2 linked regions of the Homo sapiens genome follow. The protein of the gene in region 1 interacts with the protein of each later gene in a pairwise test. Each region holds a gene or a part of one and is shown on either strand. Other genes may lie near its edges.

What was found.
Region 2: the proteins of ACP6 (region 1) and GNG7 interact in a two-hybrid assay, tested with the Homo sapiens proteins (one large-scale study listed by BioGRID and IntAct).

The regions. Positions count from the first base shown.
Region 1 is NC_000001.11:147,646,507-147,650,024, reverse strand, and holds part of ACP6 (lysophosphatidic acid phosphatase type 6), read left to right. Parts: intron 1-1,613; coding exon 1,614-1,779; coding exon of another isoform or gene 1,780-1,848; exon of another isoform or gene 1,849-2,458; coding exon 2,459-2,602; 3' UTR 2,603-3,518. UniProt on the Homo sapiens protein: Hydrolyzes lysophosphatidic acid (LPA) containing a medium length fatty acid chain to the corresponding monoacylglycerol.
Region 2 is NC_000019.10:2,520,988-2,525,011, reverse strand, and holds part of GNG7 (guanine nucleotide-binding protein G(I)/G(S)/G(O) subunit gamma-7), read left to right. Parts: intron 1-4,024. UniProt on the Homo sapiens protein: Guanine nucleotide-binding proteins (G proteins) are involved as a modulator or transducer in various transmembrane signaling systems.

The sequences.
Region 1 (3,518 bases):
GTTTAACAGGCCTCAAGTGTCAAAGAGGTTCACAATCTTTTAACCTTTCTTCCTGCTGCACCCCTCCTACCATGTTTTGAAAATTTTATTTTTGCTTTCTCTCTCTCTTTTTTTTATTAATTGAAGATATGTCAAACAGTAGCCAATTATGATGTCACACTGATTTGATATGATAATAGTCCAAAACAAAGATAAATTGCTTAATGGATTGTGTAGTTTGAACCACTTTCATTGAGTGTAAAGAAGGTATGATATCCATAAGGCATTTAAAAATATTGGAAGTGGCCAGGTGCAGTGGCTCACGCCTGTAATCCCAGCACTTTGGGAGGCCAAGGTGAGTGGATCACGAGGTCAGGAGATTGAAAACATCCTGGCCAACATGGTGAAACCCTGCTCTACTAAAAATACAAAAATTATCCGGGCATGGTGGCACGCACCTTTAGTCTCAGCTACTCGGGAGGTTGAGTCAGGAGAGTTGCTTGAACCCAGGAGGCGGAGGTTGCAGTTAGCCAAGATCACACCACTGTACTCCAGCCTGGTGACAGAGCCAGGCTCTGTCTCAAAAAAAAAAAATGTTGGAAGTAGCTCATGAGCCTCCATTGCCACTTTTGGAGCCTTGAATCCAAGGTTGGGACTACGGCTGTGGAATATTATGTGTCCTAGGCACTTGCTAAGTGCGTTCTGCAGGAAAACAGCTTCACCGTTGCCCAAGAACTCATCAGGTTCTCAGGCTCCAGCCTGATCTACTAAATCAGCATCTGCAGTTTAACAAGATCCCCAGGTGATTGATAGTCACCTGAATTTTGGAGAAGCACTGTTGTGGTATCACAGCTAGAAACTCATGATGGCGTAAGAGGAATAGGAGACAGTGAGTTGAAACAGGAACTTTGGGCCAAGATTTGTAATAGCAAATCTTGTGAATACCATTTCCTGTCCTTCACAGTACCTGCAATGACAGTACATTTTTTCTGGCTTTTGCCACCTTGCCACCTTCTGCCTTGGATCTTTAGAACACCACAGGATCCAATGCTAGTCTTCTAGGATGGGGGTCCATAAATAAAATCCTTGGTCTTTCCTAAGAGATGGATACTGGTGTCAGGCAGATGTAGATTAAAATGGCATTCTTATTACAGATTAAAGCCATTTGGAGAATGTGCTGAGGGCCAAATGGGCTTGTGAATATTATTTTGAAATAAACTTAATACCCCAAAACTTCAAGCTTCCCCAACAAGGAGCCCTACTAAACTCATCCCATGGCTGAGAGTAGGAAGGGCATTCATGTAGGCTGGCAGGACCCAAAGAGAGAAGAGAGGTAGGGTCTAAGCCACACACGCTCAGTTTCTTCTTTGAAACTCACCAGGGAGGAGTGAGTAGGTGGCAAGGAGGAGGCCAGGAGAATTTCTCTGGCGGGGACCCTCCTCATGAAGACACGGGGAGTGGGAACAAGGGTTCTTCCCACGATCTACTGCAAAGGACTTTTATACCAGGCTCAGCTGATTTCTAGATGTCACCTAGTTTCTGAGGCAAGTGTGTCTTACGTAAAGGAGGCAGGCCACATCCTGACCTTCAGAGTCCTGAGGCAGAGAATTGTGGAGAGCTGTTTCCTCTTGCAGAAAGCTGTATCTCTATGCGGCTCATGATGTGACCTTCATACCGCTCTTAATGACCCTGGGGATTTTTGACCACAAATGGCCACCGTTTGCTGTTGACCTGACCATGGAACTTTACCAGCACCTGGAATCTAAGGAGTGGTTTGTGCAGCTCTATTACCACGGGAAGGTAATACCCCTGAGGTGGGGTTGGGTGGTGGTGAGGCACCCTCCTGCAAAACCCACCTACCTGAGTTAGCACCAAGTCTCCCTCCTCAGGCCCAGTGGAGTCTCTCTTGGCACAGTCAGCTCTCTGAATCCTATAGGGCAACTCCTGGCTATGGCCCAGGGGTCAGGCAGAACTTGACAGATGGTGGCAGGATGGGGCTTGAGCCTTATCCCAGTTCTGTTACAGACTCCTAGGAACAGGGTCCCCCTCCTCTTCTCCTGAGCGTCCCTGTCAGGATGTCGCCTCCTGGCTGTGAGACCTGTTTTGGAGATTGTTGGTGGTATCTTTGGGAGGTGATGTGTGCTGCTGTTAGCACCCGTGGTGTTGGCTGCTTCATCAGGGCTGGGGTCCAGGGCAGAGGCCAGAGCACGCCCCAGGGATGAGCCTGTTGGTTCTCCCAGCTCGGGGATGTAACTCGACTCTTTCTTCCCAGTCAATTCAACACTTTTTGAGTGACTTTTACAAGCAGAGCATAGTGCTTTTATTCTGGAAGCTCACCGGGTAGTGGGGCCTTCCTGTCTGTAATATGTATGCACATGTATACCACATGGATCAGAGCCTCTCAGATCTCTGGGCTTAGCTGGAAATAGCAGAAGGACAGGTTCCTCGGCGGACCTGCTGAGTTATGTTTCTTCTGCAGGAGCAGGTGCCGAGAGGTTGCCCTGATGGGCTCTGCCCGCTGGACATGTTCTTGAATGCCATGTCAGTTTATACCTTAAGCCCAGAAAAATACCACGCACTCTGCTCTCAAACTCAGGTGATGGAAGTTGGAAATGAAGAGTAACTGATTTATAAAAGCAGGATGTGTTGATTTTAAAATAAAGTGCCTTTATACAATGCCTCCTGCTTTGTGTGTTTGGGAAGAGGAGAGAGCAAGGGGTAATGTACTTTAATATAATGTAAGGATATTTCCTTTCTGTGGGTTTACTAAGATTTCTTCCTGAACGGAAAAGGGGTATAATATTGAGACCAAAAGGATATTTCTCTATTTTGTGAGTTGGTTTCTAAGGTTAGAAGCATCTTTGTGTGACACGGGCTGGGGACATCATGACCCTGTAGAATTGTGTCGGTTTTGGACTTTAGTTCTTTTCTCCTATATTAATTTCACATGTATTGAGCTACCTACTAAGTAGTGATCATTATAAAGGTGAAAACACTCTGCCCTCAAGTTGTTGCAGTCCAGTGGGAGAGGCAGCCGAGTAAATCAGTGATACAGTGCTGTATGTTTTATGCTGTAATAGGTATTTGAGGGGCTATTTGGGTATAGAGAAGAAACTTCCTGCTCACATGGCAGGGGATGTGGGGAACAGTCAAGGAAGGCTTCTGAAAAAGTCCTGGCCTGATCTGAGTAGAGAAAGGTGGGTAGGAGTTAACCAGGAAAGCAAGGATGAAAGCGTGTTGCGTTTAGATAAAGGATAGGCTTCAAGGTCAGGGAACGTTGCTGGGTGGTGAGATGGAACCCTGATGTGGAGGCTCAGCAGGAAGAAGCAGGAAGGACACTGGGCCCCTGGTGGTTTTAGTTCCAGAAACAAATGTGGGCCCCAGGGCTCTGCAATGGTAAGGCTGGAACTACTCAACATAAGAGCTCCACCTTTAACTGTGCCCCCTAAGAGTACCTGATGATCCCCCTATCTCCTTGTCAATGTTGCTGTTCTTCTCCAGAATCTATTTCAACCCTTCTCTGATTTCAAACCACCAGT
Region 2 (4,024 bases), on another chromosome or scaffold:
AGACGGGGACTTAGGGAGGCGACTGCATGGGTGATGCAATCTGTGTCTGAGTCTCGGCATCTCAGCCCAAGCATCCACATGCACTCCCGTGCGCACACACACGCACACGCATGTACACATGCAGACACATGTACACACCCACGCACGCACATATCCACGCACCTACAGTGACGTACACACACGCCAACACGCATGCACACACCCATAGTGACATGCATGCCCACACACGTGTGCGCACACGCACATGCAGTGCCGTGTCCACACACGTGCACATACACACGTGCACACTGGCATGCATGTCCACACACATGCACGTATGCAAATGCACCTATGCACACACTCATATGCAGACGCACACACGTAGATGTGTACATGCACTCATATAGACACATGCACATGTACACACATGCAAGGATGCACACTCATATGCATGCTGACGTGCACACCCATGCATATGCAGGTACACATACACATGCAGATATGTGTGCACACACGCATATATGCACACTCATGAATGCCAGTATACACATACACACATACATGCACACGCAAGGTACACATACATGCACATGTGCACACACATACACATGTGCACACTGACATGCACACCACGTGTACACACGTGTACAGTCACATGTGCATCATTGACATACATGCAAATAAACATAGACACACACACACAGCGCAGTCCTCTCTGGCCTTCCTGGCAGGCCTGGGTTATTACCCAGCCCAAAGGCAGCATCTCGCAGGGAATTTCGCCCAAAACAGAAAAGCCAGCACGGCTCAGGACCTGATGCTCACATGGAAATTGCGGGCGGTGGCTGCCCAGGGCAGCAGGGGCCCAGGGTCTGGGTGGACACTCCTGACTGTGGATGCTAAATAGGACCCCCTGGCCTTCCAAGGAAAACAGGAGGTGCGGCCAGCCCGTTTGTTCTCTGCGTGCACGTATTTTTAGCACTGAGTAATTTAGGTATTTTTAAGCCCAACCAAGGGCGGTTTTCCCTGAGTTGGATGTTTTGTGGCTGCTTTGAAGCTCTCTGGAATCAGAGCCCTCTGAGCGGCCACACGTGGGCTCTGCCTCCAGAGCAGACAGATTGGGCCTTCTCTGCCCCCAAAAAGTGGGGGTGGGACGTCTGCTGGAAACCAAGGAGGCTGGGCGGTGTCAAAGGGATTTTTTGTTTAATTGCCCCTTTTATTGAGATCGCCGTGGAGTCACAGCCAGTGCTAACAAAGAATGTAGAGGAATTCTGTGTGTCATTCCCCGGCCGTCCCTGGTGGTAACATTTGGTAAAGCTATGGGCAGGATCGCAGCCAGACAGTCACACACCCACCAGCCTCACTCAGGTTCCACAGTATTCAGTATTGTGCCCGCTGGTGTGTGAGTGTGTGAGGCTCTCTGTGAGTTTATCACTCATGTAGGCTTGTGGATTCATCACCGTAGTTGAGGCACTAACAGGGATCATTCGTGTTGCCCTTTTATTATTTATTCAGAGATGGGGTCTCACTAAATTGCCCAGTCTGGCCTCAACCTCCCAGGCTCAAGTGATCCTCCCACCTCAGCCTCCCAAGTAGCTGGGACCACAGGAGTGCGCTACCCATGCCCAGCTAATTTTCTAATTTTTTGTAGAGAGGGGGTCTTGCTATGTTGCCTAGGCTGGCCTCAAACTCCTGGACTCAAGTGATCCTCGCATCTCAGCCTCCCAAAGTGCTGGTATTACAGGCAAGAGCCACCATGCCTGGCTGTGTTGCCCTTTTATACAGAGACCTATCTCCCTCCCAGCCCCTGCCCCTCCCTGATCCCTGGCAGCCGCTAATCTGTTCTCCATTTCTAAAATTTCGTCCTTGGGCCGGGCATGGTGGCTCATGCCTGTAATCCCAGCACTTTGGGAGGTCGAGACAGGCAGATCACTTGAGGCCAGGAGTTTGAGACCAGCCTGGCCAACATGGTAAAACCATGTCTCTACCAAAAATACAAAGATTAGCCAGGCATGGTGGCACATGCACCTGTAATCCCAGCTACTCAGGAGGCAGAAGTGAGAGTATCGCTGGAGCTGGAGAAGCGGAGCTTGCAGTGAGCTGAGATCATGCCACTGCACTCCAGCCTGGGCAACAGAGCGAGACTCTGTCTAAAAAAAGTCCTCTTAAACACATTACACAAACAGAAGCATGCTACACATCCCAGGCCCTGGAGATTCCCCTGCGGTGTGGTATGCATGGATGGTCCTTTCCTTCTTTTTTTTTTTTTTTTTTTTTTTTTTTTGAGACAGAGTCTCACTCTGTCCCCCAGGCTGGAGTGCAGTGGCGTGATCTCTGCTCACTGCAAGCTCCGCCTTCCGGGTTCACCCCATTCTCCTGCCTCAGCCTCCCGAGTAGCTGGGACTACAGGCACCCGCCACCACGCCCGGGAGACGGGGTTTCACCGTGTTAGCCAGGATGGTCTTGATCTCCTGACCTTGTGACCCGCCCGCCTCGGCCTCCCAAAGTGCTGGGATTACAGGCGTGAGCCACCGCGCCCGGCCAGTCCTTTCCTTCTTATCACTAAGTAGGCATTTTTTGAGAACTCTGGAATCTGCCTTGACTTCTCTGCGGCTGCCTGGCTCTGCAAAACAGACAGCGATGCCATGAGTTATGACAGAGACAGGGTGCGGCTTAATTAACTGCTCACAGACGCCCGGCTGGGACTGCGGCTGCCCAGGACTCTTGAACCTGGCCCCTGCCCCTGCCACCCCCATCAGCACCAACCCCCTCACTGGGTCCTACGAAGCAGGTTTCTCTAGGCTGGACACTACTGACACGTGGGGCTGGATCGTTCCCTGGAGCGGGGCCGTCCTGGGCACTGCAGGGTGCTGAGCAGCATCCGTGGCCTCCACCCACTCCCTGCCAGGAGCACCCCCAAGTCATGACAGCCACAAATGTCCCAGACATCACCCAGTGCTCCATGGAGGGCAGAGTCATCCCCAGATGAGATCTGGGGATTCCACGGACTCCCAAGAGACTCTGCGTCCTGTGATCGTCTGCCCTGTTGAGGTCCTGGGTTTTTCCAGGAGAATTCAAGAAGCAACAGCATGGGCTCCTGACTGGTTCAATATGAAGGACACGGAGGAGAGGCCGGGCTCACACCTGTCATCCCAGCACTTTGAGAGGCCGAGGAGGGTGGATCACCTGAGGTCAGGAGTTCAAGACCAGCCTGGCCAACATGGTGAAACGCTGTCTGTACTAAAAATACAAAAATTAGCCGGGTGTGGTGGCACGTGCCTGTAATCCCAGCTACTCGGGAGGCTGAGGCAGGAGAATCGCTTGAACCCGGGAGGCAGAGGTTGCAGTGAGCCGAGATCACACCACTGCACTCCAGCCTGGGCAACAGAGCAAGACTCTGTCTCAAAAAAAAAAAAAAAAAAACACGGAGGGGGACAGTCACCAGGGGTTCTGCTGTGATCCCTGCCCTGACCCAGGGTCTCCCCTGGGTACTATGGATATCGCGTTCGGATCCTTCCCTGGCGTGGGGCCGTCCGGGGCACTGCAGGGAGCTGAGCAATGTCCCTGGCCTCCACCCAACCCACTCCATGCCAGGAGCACCCCCCACAGCCACAGATGTCCCCAGATATCACCCAGTGTCCCCTGGAGGGCAAGAACCCCTGCCATGGACTGAGGCAGGCCACCCGGGAGCCTGCGTGGGTCCTCCCTTCTCCAGAGGGCCTGGCCTATTGCCTTTGCCCTTTCTTTATTTTTTCTTTATTTTTTTTTTTGAGACGGAGTCTTGCTCTGTCGTCCAGGCTGGAGTGCAGGGGCACCATCTCGGCTCACTGCAAGCTCCACCTCCCGGGTTCACGTCATTCTCCTGCCTCAGCCTCCAGAGTAGCTGGGACTATAGGCACCCACCACCATGCCTGGCTAATTTTTGTATTTTTTTTTTTTTTTTTAGTAACGATGAGGTTTCACCGTGTTAGCCAGGATGGTCTCGATCTCCTGACCTCATGATCCACCTGCCTCAGCCTCCCAAAGTGCTGGGATTACAGGCGTGAGC